Homo sapiens: one gene and its partners. The protein of the gene in region 1 purifies or fractionates together with the protein of each later gene. This does not show direct contact. Each region holds a gene or a part of one and is shown in the gene's direction. Other genes may lie near its edges.

What was found. The genes of interacting proteins can lie anywhere in the genome.
Region 2: the proteins of UNC13B (region 1) and RAB27A purify together in Homo sapiens (affinity purification with western blotting, with the first as the bait; one study listed by BioGRID). This does not show direct contact.
Region 3: the proteins of UNC13B (region 1) and CEP72 purify together in Homo sapiens (co-immunoprecipitation; one large-scale study listed by IntAct). This does not show direct contact.
Region 4: the proteins of UNC13B (region 1) and PPP2R3A purify together in Homo sapiens (co-immunoprecipitation; one large-scale study listed by IntAct). This does not show direct contact.

What each region holds. Positions count from the first base shown.
Region 1 is NC_000009.12:35,298,009-35,301,508, forward strand, and holds part of UNC13B (protein unc-13 homolog B), read left to right. Parts: intron 1-2,157; coding exon 2,158-3,500. UniProt on the Homo sapiens protein: Plays a role in vesicle maturation during exocytosis as a target of the diacylglycerol second messenger pathway.
Region 2 is NC_000015.10:55,234,314-55,237,813, reverse strand, and holds part of RAB27A (ras-related protein Rab-27A), read left to right. Parts: intron 1-371; exon of another isoform or gene 372-1,349; intron 1,350-2,857; 5' UTR 2,858-2,879; coding exon 2,880-3,032; intron 3,033-3,500. UniProt on the Homo sapiens protein: Small GTPase which cycles between active GTP-bound and inactive GDP-bound states. In its active state, binds to a variety of effector proteins to regulate homeostasis of late endocytic pathway, including endosomal positioning, maturation and secretion.
Region 3 is NC_000005.10:618,840-622,339, forward strand, and holds part of CEP72 (centrosomal protein of 72 kDa), read left to right. Parts: intron 1-150; coding exon 151-278; intron 279-1,229; coding exon 1,230-1,422; intron 1,423-3,500. UniProt on the Homo sapiens protein: Involved in the recruitment of key centrosomal proteins to the centrosome.
Region 4 is NC_000003.12:136,143,728-136,146,060, forward strand, and holds part of PPP2R3A (serine/threonine-protein phosphatase 2A regulatory subunit B'' subunit alpha), read left to right. Parts: intron 1-1,315; coding exon 1,316-1,439; 3' UTR 1,440-2,333. UniProt on the Homo sapiens protein: The B regulatory subunit might modulate substrate selectivity and catalytic activity, and might also direct the localization of the catalytic enzyme to a particular subcellular compartment.

The sequences.
Region 1 (3,500 bases):
TCTTTTACTCAATGATATTAGCATCCATTGATCCGTGCCTGAATCAATTATTTTATTGATTGGAGGTTAGTTTTCAAGAAATCATTCCAATTTAGCTTATCCTTTTAGTTTCTAAAATTCACTAGACTGGCTAGGTGCAGTGACTGATGCCTATAATCCCAGCACTTTGGGAGGCCAAGGCGGGAGGATCACTGGAGTCCAAGAGCTTGAGACCAGCCTGAGAAATATAGTGAAACCTCATCTCTACAAAAAATAAACAAAATTAGCTGGATGTGGTGGCGCATGCCTATGGTCCTAGCTACTTGGGAGGCTGAGTTGGGAGAGATTGCTTGAGTCTGGGAGGTCGAAGCTATAGTATGCCAAGATTGCACCACTGCACTCCAGCCTGGATGACAGAGCAAGACTCTGTCTCAGTCAATCAATACAAAATTCACCAGACCATAGGATGATGTCCTTTTCTTGCCCACCTCACCAAACTGCTACATGGTGAGTTTAGACACAGGGTCTTGCGTTGTTGCTCAGGCCGGTCTTGAATTCCTGGGTTCAAGTGATCCTCCTGCCTTGGCCTCCGAAAGTGCTTGGATTACAGGTGAGAGCCACTGCACCTGGCCTTCTGGAAGATTTTTAGTGACTAAGTGTCTGCTTTGATCTTGCTTCTGTTTCCTAAATGAATGCTTTTGGATGTTATATCTATAAAGAACACACTGAACTCATAAGCTCCTAGCCTTTAGGTTCTTTCTCCATCCCTACCTTGGTACACAGAAGAAGGCAGTCTTTAATCTAAGTGAAAGAAAGTTCAGGCTATCTTCAGTATTCATTGTTTTAAGGTGGGCATGTAGCTTCTGCTGCTATAATCAGTATAGGGAAAGATTTTCTTTTCACTGTGATCCTCAATGCATATAGCCTTTAGATTTCACAAACAACAAATTATAATGCCTTAGGCTGGGCATGGTGGCTCATGCCTGTAATTCCAGTAGTTTGGGAGGCTGAGGGCGGGTGGATCACCTGAGGTCAGGAGTTCAAGACCAGCCTGGCCAACATGGTGAAAACCCACCTCTACTAAAAATACAAAAATTAGCTGGGCCTAGTCGTGGGTGCCTGTAGACCCAGCTACTCGGGAGGCTGAGGCAGGAGAATTGCTTGAACCCAGGAGGCGGACATTGCAATGAGCTGAGAATGTGCCATTGCACTCCAGCCTGGGCAACAAGAGCAAAACTCCGTCTCAAAAAAAAATTATAAGGCCTTAAATAATTTGTTATTTTTTTGTAGTATAACAAAGTTTGACTTCTGCTGATAGTAAAAAATGGTTTTATATGTATTTTTTTCTTATTAAAAGAAATATGTTTGACTATATTCTTGGCTACACATCCTCAAATATAACTTTCAGAAAGTTAACAGCTTGGCTTCTTTTTAGACTAAAAATTTATCAGCAAATTTCGTTTTCTTGAAATCCCTTGATATATTTTGCTGGTATACTTTAATATTGCAAATACATTCTAGATATTGGTACAACATGTTTCATTTTTTTCATTTGTTTCTTAGAAAAATAAAAGAATTCTAAAAAGCTCACCAATGAAAAATGATTGCAAGTTGAAGCATTTAAAAATTGATATTATAGCTGTTCTTTTTCTCATATGGAATAAACTATTTGACTACATTGATATAATATTTAAGAACATGTGGATTTCCTTTTCATATTTTTTTAGTCTGAATGCTTTTTATCACATTGGCAATTTTATTGTTCTAGTCTTCTCATTGAACATGTATTAAATCTTATAACTTCTTTCTTCCTTTTCCCTGTCTCTTCCTTTTTCTTTGCTTTATTGTTCCTCCAATTTTATCCCTTCACATCAGACAAGGCTCACAGGCTAAAGATGAAAAAATTAGGATTATTTCAGCTTTCTCTGATGTTGACTATGAAGAGCAAGAAGATATACATAAGGAGATAGAGGGGAAAATATCACAAGAGTTTCTAGAAAATAATAACATAAACTTGAAGGAAGCAGAGATAAAAGAAATTAGAACCCTTTCAAAAGCTGATAAATACTACAGCCAACAAAAACAACCAAAGTATAAGAACAGGAAAAAGATACCACCTCAGAGCCAACAAACAGAATTCTCTACTGAGTTTAAGGTTGAAACTTCTGTTTTCTCCAGGTATGCTCAGAAATATGATACACTAGATAGAAGAAGAAAAAAGAAATCCTTATACAATCATTTTGAAGACAGTGAAAGAAGGCAATATGGTGAGAGATCTGAAACTAAGACTAACTACAAAAGTACATATTCTAATACTGAAAATTGTACCCTTTGCCATACTGAAAAGAAACAAAATATGGGGTACCCAGTTTTGTACCCCTACAAAAATGGATTTGTGGTTAAGAGTGGCATGCAGCGCATTAAGTTGGAAAGTCATGATTATGATCTGTCCAGTTGTTTAAGGCACTGTGAAAAGTCATCTGGCTCAAACCAGCATGTCACTAATTTTACCTCATTAGATATTCTTGAAGATTCTACTAGTAGTACTTCTGATGAACTTCTGGGTTCCCCCATTTCTGATAAGCAGGAAAATTTACAGTCACCAACATGGCATTCATCCAATGTCCACCATATTGGAGATTTTCCTGAGGAATATTATGTAGCAAATTCAGCATTGCCATTACAAAGGATGAATTGTGATGCAAAAACACTTGGAGATCTGTCTGAGTGCTCTATAGAAGAGATAACCCCTTCCTCTATTGAGGAGCCCAAGGAGGACCGTATTGATACAATGGATGAGCTTCAGTGTTTGGTAGAAACGGTGTCAGAATATTTAGCAGAGAAGGAAGAGGAGATTAATAGATTTGGTTCACTTTCAAAAACTAAAAAATCACATAAACAAAATAGTACTCTTGATGCAGAACAGAGAACGCCTGGGGATCAAATACCACCTTTAACTATTGTCAAGAATGACAAGGACACGGCCATCTCTTTCCCTGAGTTGACTGGAGTACAATGTGCTGTTGGTTCTTTGTTTAGTTCACTCACAGAAAAAGTGGGTTCAGGCACAAAGCATCTAACAAACTCTGTGGAAAAGTTGGTTTCCTTAGTTCCAGAAAAAACAGAAACTCTTAATCAAATAGAGGCAATTAATTTGGGATCTAAACCCAGAGCCATGGCAGTATTGGGGAAGGATCTTTCCATGCAATCTCCATTATCCTCTCAAAAAGATGATAATGTGAATATAGACAGACATAGAAAAACCTCTGAAAATGAGCACATGGGTAATAAAACTGGGAGTTTATACTTTCAGAATACAACAGAAAGTATTGCAAAGGACTTGGCTCCACAGAGTCAGAGTTCAGTTATAAAGTCGGTTTTCAGCAGGTTAAATCCATTGAAGATCTTTTCAGAAAAGGAGGAAACAAAAAAAGATGATGACCAGAGTAAGCCACCAAGAAAAGAAAGCTTTGTTGAGTGTGGTTTGGAGTTAAATAAAAGGGAAGGCACTCTTGACAATT
Region 2 (3,500 bases), on another chromosome or scaffold:
TTCAAATTAAAAATAAATAGGAAATAAGGTAGTCACAGTGTCTTCTTGCATCATTCTCACTGCAGGATCGGTATTGTTATCTGCTGCTCCATTCAGTTTGAGGGGAAGCCCTCAAATGAGTCAACATTATCTGGACTTGCTTTTCAATTCTTAGCTCTTATTTCCAATAACTTAGAGCCAGGTGTGATGCTGTGATATGACGTGCTATAATGTTGATGTCCAAGTTGTCGTTTTTTGGAGAGGAATTCTGTTATATGTCATTAATACTGGTGACCTATACTTGCAAATATCCAAGCTATAAAGACAGGTAAGGCATCATCTGTGAAGTGTCACTCTTTATAGTGTGCAAATAGAATTTTGAATGTTTGTAGAGGCTCTGCCCTTATCCACGGGCTAGCCATACCTGAAACGTGAGGTTGCAGATCTGCACTGAAGCACTCTGAGGAAACACACTGCAGTGGCTTTTGGGGCTCAGCATTCAGGAGTTTTCAGCATAAGGTGAGTCCCCAAGTTGAGGATGGGGTGAGGGAGGTAACACTGAAAACCAGTAAATATTCTTGTCTGAGTTTTTATTAATTTTATGGATATATAGAAATAGTCCTACAGGAAGCACTGAATATGGCAGCCAAGTTTCTGGATATGGTGCTGGGTAAAAAGGGGATAACGCCGGGAGTCAGTAGCATCCAATGTAGGACATCTGGCATGTGTATAGATGGATAAATATGTATGTTTGAATAGTCATGTAGAGTCGTCAGTGTTAATGAGATAGCTAGTTGTTTTTATGATTTTCAGGAGAGTTTATTGGCATTGGCGGGGGAAACGGAGAGAGGTTGGTTAATGTGTACAAGCATATGGTTAGATGGAAAGAATAAGTTCTAATGTTCAACAGTAGACTAGGGTGACTATAGTTAACAAAAATGTATTGTGTATTTTAAAATAGCTAGAAGAGAGGACTTGAAATGTTCTCAATGCATAGAAATGATAAATACTCGAGGAAATAAATACCCTAAATACCTTCATGTGATCATTACATTCTATGCATGTAACAAAATATTACATGTACCCCATAAAAATATACAAATATTATGTATCAATAAAATTTTAATGAAAAAGTAAACCTCCCCTGGAGAGAGATCCCATTTCTAGTTGGACTGATATTTTGGGTTTGAATCTATTTAGAAGGTAAATACAAATCATGAAAAGTGCTGATTGCAAAGAACCAAAAATAGCCGTGGTTAGGTATTGCTGATATAAATGAATTTTTCTTCTTTAAGGTGGACTTTTGTTTTAGTCGGTACTGAAGAGCTGAATTTTTAGCAGTTCTTGATAGAGTACCCAGGTAAACATAGGTAAGCGAGCCCTTGGTTGTGGCACTGTGGTCTCTGAGCAGTGACTGTTCAAATCTGGAACTCAGTTCCCAAGTGAGCAGTGATACTCTAGAGAAGTCTGGCTTAATATGTAGTACATATTAATAGTAATATGTAAGGAAGCAGGGACTAAATTTACTTGTGAAATAACAGTGTCTTTGAAGGAACCGTAATAACATGTGAAAATGAATAGAATAAATGAAATTGCCTAGATGTCCATGTAAAAAGAGAGAAAAGGCAAGGTTCTAGCACTAGGAGACTTTCTTTCTTTCTTTTTTTTTTATTTCCATAGGTTTTTGGGGAACAGGTGGTGTTTAGTTACATGGATAAGTTCTTTAGTGGTGATTTCTGAGATTTTGGTGCACCCATCACCCAAGCAGTGTACACTGTATTCAATCTGTAGTCTTTTATCCCTCACCCGCCTCCCACCCTTTCCACCCGAGTCCCCAAAGTCCATTGTATCATTCTTATGCCTTTGCTTCCTCATAGCTTCACTCCTACATATGAGTGAGAACATATGATGTTTGGTTTTCCATTCCTGACTTACTTCACTTAGAATAATTGTCTTCAATTCCATCCAGATTGCTGTGAATGCCATTATTTCGTTCCTTTTTGTGGCTGAGTAGTATTCCGTGGTGTGTGTATATATATACAGATAAAAAAATTGTGGTGTACCACAATTTCTTTATCTACTCATTGACTGGTGAGCATTTGGACTGGTTCCTTATGTTTGCAATTGCAAATTTTAGCACTAGGAGACTTTGAAAAAGGAGGGGAAATTGGAACCACTTGCACTCTAATGATTACTGTTATTCCTTATAACATTCTCTTTCCTCTGTTTTTCTTGTATTAGTTTTTGTTCTATATGGTCTACAGATAAGACTTAGTGACTGTTACCTTCTTGTTGATTATCATTCCCACTTGAAATTTTTGTCCTAATGGTACTATAATATGTATGTTTTTATTTTTATTTTTATTTTTATTTATTTTTTTATTTTGAGACAGAGTTTTGCTCTTGTTGCCCAGGCTGGAGTGCAATGGCGCAATCTTGGCTCACTGCAACCTCCACCTCCCAGGTTCAAGTGATTCTCCTGCCTCAGCCTCCTGAGTAGCTGGGATTATAGGCATGCACCACCATGCCTGGCTAATTTTTGTATTTTCAGTAGAGATGGGGTTTCTCCATGTTGGTCAGGCTGGTCTCGAATTCCCAACCTTAGGTGATCTGCCCACCTTGGCCTCCCAAAGTGCTGGGATTACCTGTGTGTTAAATTAAAACTACACTGTTAATTACTATTTCAATAGCTTCTCATCTAGCTAGTTATTAGGTCTTCAAGGATGGTGAACAATATGTATGTAACTCTCTTTTCATACAACCCGTAGACATACAGGTTAACATTAGGTGTTAAACTGAATATTGTTGTCACTTTTTAAATGGATAATTAATGTTTTCTAATGGATTTTAATTAAAAAATTTTGTGTGTATTTTACAGGTGAACTACTGAGTTCTTCATTATGTCTGATGGAGATTATGATTACCTCATCAAGTTTTTAGCTTTGGGAGACTCTGGTGTAGGGAAGACCAGTGTACTTTACCAATATACAGATGGTAAATTTAACTCCAAATTTATCACAACAGTGGGCATTGATTTCAGGGAAAAAAGAGTGGTAAGTTCTATATCCTTCTATGTAAAAATGTAATCGTTAAGTCAACATTTGCTGGTCTGTTTAGTTTACTTTGTAGGAATTAGGAGGACAAAGGTTGGGATCTGAAATTAAAGGTACATATGAAAGTGAGTTATGTTCAATCCAGGCAACATGATTGAAAAGGCTGTGCTGACAGCACTTCATATAAAACCAGGCAGACAAAGTGGAAGTGGACAGTTCTTTAAAATGTCACCTTGGTACTCTTTTGGCTTGTATCTTCCCTCTGAACTCCGAAAGTTATTTGTCTACCTTTGTCTTGAAGCCTGCCAACCACCTTGCCCCTCATACTCTTGTTTTATGGGCTGTGTCTTCCACCTTTGGTATCTTATTATTTTTAATGGCATTTCTCCTAATAAAGTCTCAGCAGTTCCACATGGAACACTAACTGGCAGAACTTATCACTGCTGCCAGGAGGGTGAGGTTGGAGTA
Region 3 (3,500 bases), on another chromosome or scaffold:
CCGAGGAGAAGATTCAGGAGCCTGAGTAAAGTTGAATTAAACCAAGAATCTGTGTCAGTTTCTACTCCATATCCAACACCAAGAACTTGACCGTTATTATAATTGTTTTCAAAATAAAAGATTAAAATCTTACAATTTTTCTATTCTTAGCTGAGCTTCAGTCATTGTCTATTCCTGGAACTTACCAAGAGAAGATCACCCACCTGGGACATTCTCTGATGAGTTTAACAGGTCTGAAATCTTTGGATCTCTCGCGCAACTCCTTGGTTAGTCTGGAGGTAAGTTTTAGGTCTCTTTCTTAAAATTTATTGCTATCAACATCAGTGGAAAGTCCATTCACAGCAGAAACGGAGTCTGTTTTGTAACCCTCTGCTTACATCTGTATACGGTACACTTTGTGTTGCGTATTTTTGTGTTTACCGTGGGCTACATTTCATACACATCACGTTACGTTGTGTTGTCGCCCTCTGATGACGATGATTATATCTTTAAAGGAAATGAAATGAGACCCCAGAGACTTACTGAGTGGCAGTGCAGTGGGCCTGGGGCTGCCTCCTGGGCTCCTGGCAGGGTCACCCTGGAGAGAGATGCCTAGGTGGTGGTGAGGGGAGCTGTGCACAACTACCATGGCCTGATTGGCCCTGACAGAACCGTGGGATGCGCCTGCCCTGAGCCCGATGCCTGAGCATTATGGAGGCTGCGTCTGCATGGCCTGATTGGCCCGGACAGAACCGTGGGATGCGCCTGCCCTGAGCCTGGTGCCTGAGCATTATGGAGGCCACGTCTGACACCAGCTCGGGAGTCTGCTCCAAGTCAGATGCGGACCTAGCCCAGGCTACACCCAGTGCTGCCTCATCTTTCCCCGTTCCCAGGCCTCAGCTTTCTCATCTGTGAAGGGGGGGCTGATGGTTCTCACCCTGTAGGGCGGCGTGTGGATTAAATGAAATTGTGCGTGCACATCACTCAGCTTGCTGCACGCTGAGGCCTCGGTAGATATTAGCTGTGCTTAGTTGCGTCACATGTGGGTTCCATAAACGACCGTCTCACCGCGTGGGGCCCAGAGAACTTCACAGATGAGAACGTTTCATTTTTCTACTTTTCCTGGTAATGACATGGAGTTATTGCAAATAAGTTTATACAGTTGGTTGGTCAGTGTGTGTTGCTGGCTTATTTCACTGTGTATTTCTTGTTTAAAGTGTGAATGAATTCACTGTGTTTTCTGTTGACAGGGCATTCAGTACCTGACTGCATTGGAGAGTCTCAATCTCTACTACAACTGCATCTCCTCGTTGGCAGAAGTGTTTCGGCTCCACGCCTTAACCGAGCTCGTGGATGTGGACTTCCGGCTGAACCCCGTGGTGAAGGTTGAGCCTGACTACCGCCTTTTTGTTGTGCACCTGCTCCCCAAGCTCCAGCAGCTGGGTAGGCATCAGGCAGGGCCACGCTCATGCTTTTGTCCCCGTGGGGTATGGGAGTCGGGGAGTCGTAGTGGGTGTCTGTGTGCTCAACGTCACATGCTTGATTCCTTCTGGAACGGGGAGTTGGTTTTCTACGCTGGTGGCTTGAGTTCCTGCAGACACACAGCTCGAGAGGCCCTGTGTCTGCACAGGACAGGGCTGGAAGTTGAGCACCCTGGGAGGGCGCAGGGCTGGGGCCGTGGGAGCACAGCCCCGGACCAGGCTGCTACGTCCTGTTCTGGCTCTCCGCGTCATGGCTGTTGGACTTGGGCACGTTCCTGAACATCTCCTGTCCTGTTTCCTCGCATAGCCCCCAGGTATCATCTCAGGTGCAGCTAAACAGCAGGATGCTGCCTGGTTTTGCCCCACTTGGAAGCACACAGGACAAGCAGCTCATTGTCCCCCACACCCCACCACTGGGACAGGGTTGGGAGGGGATGTGCAGTGACCTTTGGATCATGCTCCTGAAAGAAAAGGCTTTCCATGACAGTCTTGTAGGCAGAACTTCCAGGGCCCCCACAGCGATGCCCAGTAGGGAGGGTCCCTGGGTTGGGGCAGCCGCAGGTCACCTTCCCATCTGCCTCCTGCCTCCCCGGAGGCATTGTTGCTGTTGCTGTTGCTGTGAGCACCTGGTGGTGTCTCTGCTGACCCTACCCCGAGTCACAGATCCAGGAGAGAAAGCTGGGGCCTCAGCCCAGGGGCACACTGACCAGAGTCCATGGGGAAGAAGAGGGTGCAGGGTCTCTTACCTCAGTCCTCCTGTGTGAAGTGGGGGGATAAGAATGCTGTGTTGACATGTCGTGGTGGGGAGACCTGAGTTAATATCTGTAAGCTCCCAGACTGCCCGGCATGGCCAGGGGCCTATAAACGTTCCCTGGTTGCTTCTGTTGTTAGGGTCAGACCTACCATGCACCGCTGTTCGAAAGCTGCCCCTCCTTCTGAACCTAGGACCTTATCAAAAACAAAAGAATCACAGAATCCCAACTATCTTGTTAGAACAAAAGACCAACAGAATCACAGAGGACAGAGCACTTTCCCCCACTGCGAGTGCCCTGAACAGGCTGTTTTCCACGGCTGTGGGGAGCATTCAGGTTCTCTTAGAGAACTGAGATTTGTATGTCAATTTCAAGTAAACAGCAGCTAAAGCACGTTGGTGGGTGATGTGCCTGGCCCCTGGGTACTGCCCGTTGTGGGCGTCGGGACTGAGGGCCAGCTGGGGTTTTGCCACCCACCAGATGAACACCCGGCAGCCCTCACCCTGTCAGCCCCATGAAGTTCGTGTGACGTCAGCAAAGCTGCACACCAGAGGTGGGAAAACAGGTGGAGGAGCACCTAAGCGCCTCAGCGAGTAGACCGGGAAGGCTGTCTGGGGCCATCGTGGAGCCATGCGGGGCCGTGTCACCTCATCACAGGGAGGACTGGCCTGCGGTATCTTGATGGTGATGTGATCACACATGTGTTTGTATATGGAATTCTCACATTTTATTTTATTTTTGAGACATAGTCTCGCTTCATCGCCCAGGCTGGAGTGCAGTGGCGTGATCTTAGCTCACTGCAACCTCCGCCTCCCGGGTTCAAGCAATACTCCTGCCGCAGCCTCCCAAGTAGCTGAGATTACAGGTGCGTGCCACTGTGCCCTGCTAATTTGTGTCTTTTTAGTAGAGATAGGGTTTTGCCATGTTGGCCAGGCTGGTTTCGAACTCCTGGCCTCAAGTCATCTGCCCACTCTGGCCTCCCAAAGTGCTGGGAATACAGGCGTGGGCCACTGAGCCTGGCCAAATTCTAACATTTTAAACTGCACTGCTTTGCTACTTGGAGAAGTTTCTGGAGATGCTGGAAAGAGCTGTCAGCATGCAGCACACACACCCTCTGTTTGGTGACAGTGTAGGTTAGTGGTATGGATTGAAATCTGTTTAAAGGAGTCCTCTTGGAAGAATGCCCCAGTCTGCCACAGTTTGACCATTTTTCAGTAACTAACGATCAAAACAATTTTTCTCTGACCTTCTAAAAGTGACTTGAGGAGCTGACAGTATCCCTGGGTCC
Region 4 (2,333 bases), on another chromosome or scaffold:
TTGCAATGAGCCAAGATGGCCCCACTGTACTCCAGCCTGGGCGACACAGCGAGACTCCATCTCAAAAGAAAAAACACACACAATGTTTTAGGAACTTGAATAGGTGCCACTTACTGTATATACCTACCTCAGCATATTTTCCCTCACTAATTGGCCCCAATTGGTACCTTTTTGATGAAGGGACTGTATGTCCACAAATTCCTGCTTAAATATTGTGGGAGATCCCTGCAAGGGCTAAGCCAGTGATGTCAAATACTATAATAGACATTGCTGATGTACATTTTTCTGATGTACATATCTACATATGAGGCTCAGAGATATAGCCTCAGAATATTTATCAATATTTCAGGCAGCCACATCATTTCCAAGAGAAAATATTTCATCTCTGCCTAAAGCCAACCTTAGGGGTAGCCTGGAGGATACAGAATTCAGGGGATACCAGCAACACCTAAAAGGTTTAGCAGAAGGACATCTTCCCAGGATGAGTATCCAGGTCCAGGTATGCTATAGAGACCTAAAAAGTAGAATGATGGGAAATCCATAAATGCACTTTAGTCAGTTCAACCTACATACTTGAACATCTTTTTGTGTTGCTTGGAAGCCACGGAGGGAAGCTATAAAGCAATCTGAGAGTTGAGAAAGTTTGCCACTCTGGCCGACCAGTGGCTCAAGCCTGTAATCCCAGCACTTTGAGAGGCCAAAGTGGGCAGATCACCTGAGGTCAGGAGTTCCAGACCAGCCTGGCCAACATGGTGAAACCCCATCTCTACTAAAAATACAAAACTTAGCCAGGTGTGGTGGCGCATGCATGTAGTCCCAGCTACTGAGGAGGCTGAGGCAGGAGAATCGCCTGAACCTGGGAGGCAGAGGTTGCAGTGAGCCAAGATCGTGCCACTTCACTCCAGACTGGGTGACAGAGCAAGGCTCCGTCTCAAAAAAAAAAAAGGTTTGCCACTCTGAGTGGAAACCACTTTTAATAAGGTCAAGTAATGCTCATACTTCATGGACCTCAAATTTTTCTTTACCTAGCACCATCTGTAATTCTCTCACTCCCACCAACCACCCTAGGGAAAGCTTGATACGGAACATTTTCAACAAATTCTGACATGGACTTAAGCTTTAAGGAACAGGGAGAAGAATGTGTTTTCTGCTCTAGAGTGTTGCCTCCTTCACGGCAGTTGAGTTGCTCACGGCCTCCATTTAGCAATTCAAGGTACCTTTGTGGGCTGGTCTTGAGGCTCGGATTTGCCATATTGATTTCTACCCAAACTTTAATCAATCAATCAGTTAATTCACTTTTGCTTTGTTATTTCAGCTTTGAAGATTATGAAACAGATGAACCTGCCTCTCCCTCTGAATTTGGAAACAAAAGCAATAAAATATTAAGTGCAAGCCTTCCAGAGAAATGTGGAAAGCTTCAATCAGTGGATGAAGAATAGCTGCCGGTGTCTACAATGAAACGAAGATGTGTATTTTAAATGTTTCTTTCTTGTGAAGAGATGTTCTCGTTTGCATACTGCTTTTTAAAGACTTTGATTTCTCCAAGTGTGTATCATCTGCACTAGGAACTTTGTTTTTAAGCAATAGGTCTGGATACACATTTAACTTAGGAGGCTCCTCCAATTTGCCTCAAACCTCTTACGGAGCTTCTCCTCAGAAGTGGTACCATCGCCTTCCAAAGTCAGCACTCTACACTCTTGAATGTACCAAGGATCTCTTGGCGACAGTACCAAGCACGGTTCTCTACACAGGTGACTGAAGTTGCCTCTGTGTTGGCTGGCATCCCTGAGTCCCCTCCGGGCTCCTATGGAGCCTAGAAGAAACCTTCACTTGCAGAAAACTTGAGTCAGAAAATTCTGGAACTTGAAAAAGTAGTAAGGGCCTCCAGAATTGACTTAGCCCTAGTAATAAAAGCACTGCCAAAACATCTCAGAGACTTCTTTTATGTATACTGGAGTTCAAAGATCTTTAACTTACCTGGCTTAATGTAATTTCACAGTTACCTGCCAAACTACTAGTCACTTTACATCCTCAGGTATTGTAACCACTGGGCCTTCCAACTTTGCTGGCAAGCTCTGGTAACCTCCCTGACTGTGGATCTTATATAAAATCTCAAGATAAAAAAACACTTCTTAAATGAAGTATAGAATTTGACTCATACTTGGAAAAAGCCCTTTTAACTTTTATCTTTTATTCATTGAACTATTGAATGATGTATTTAATATCCAAATTAGTTGATAACTGTTTTCACTTCCTATCAGAAGGCCTGCTTGAAGACATAAAGGAATAATGATACATTAAAATTCTTACTAGATAGATATATTCCTTCCTCC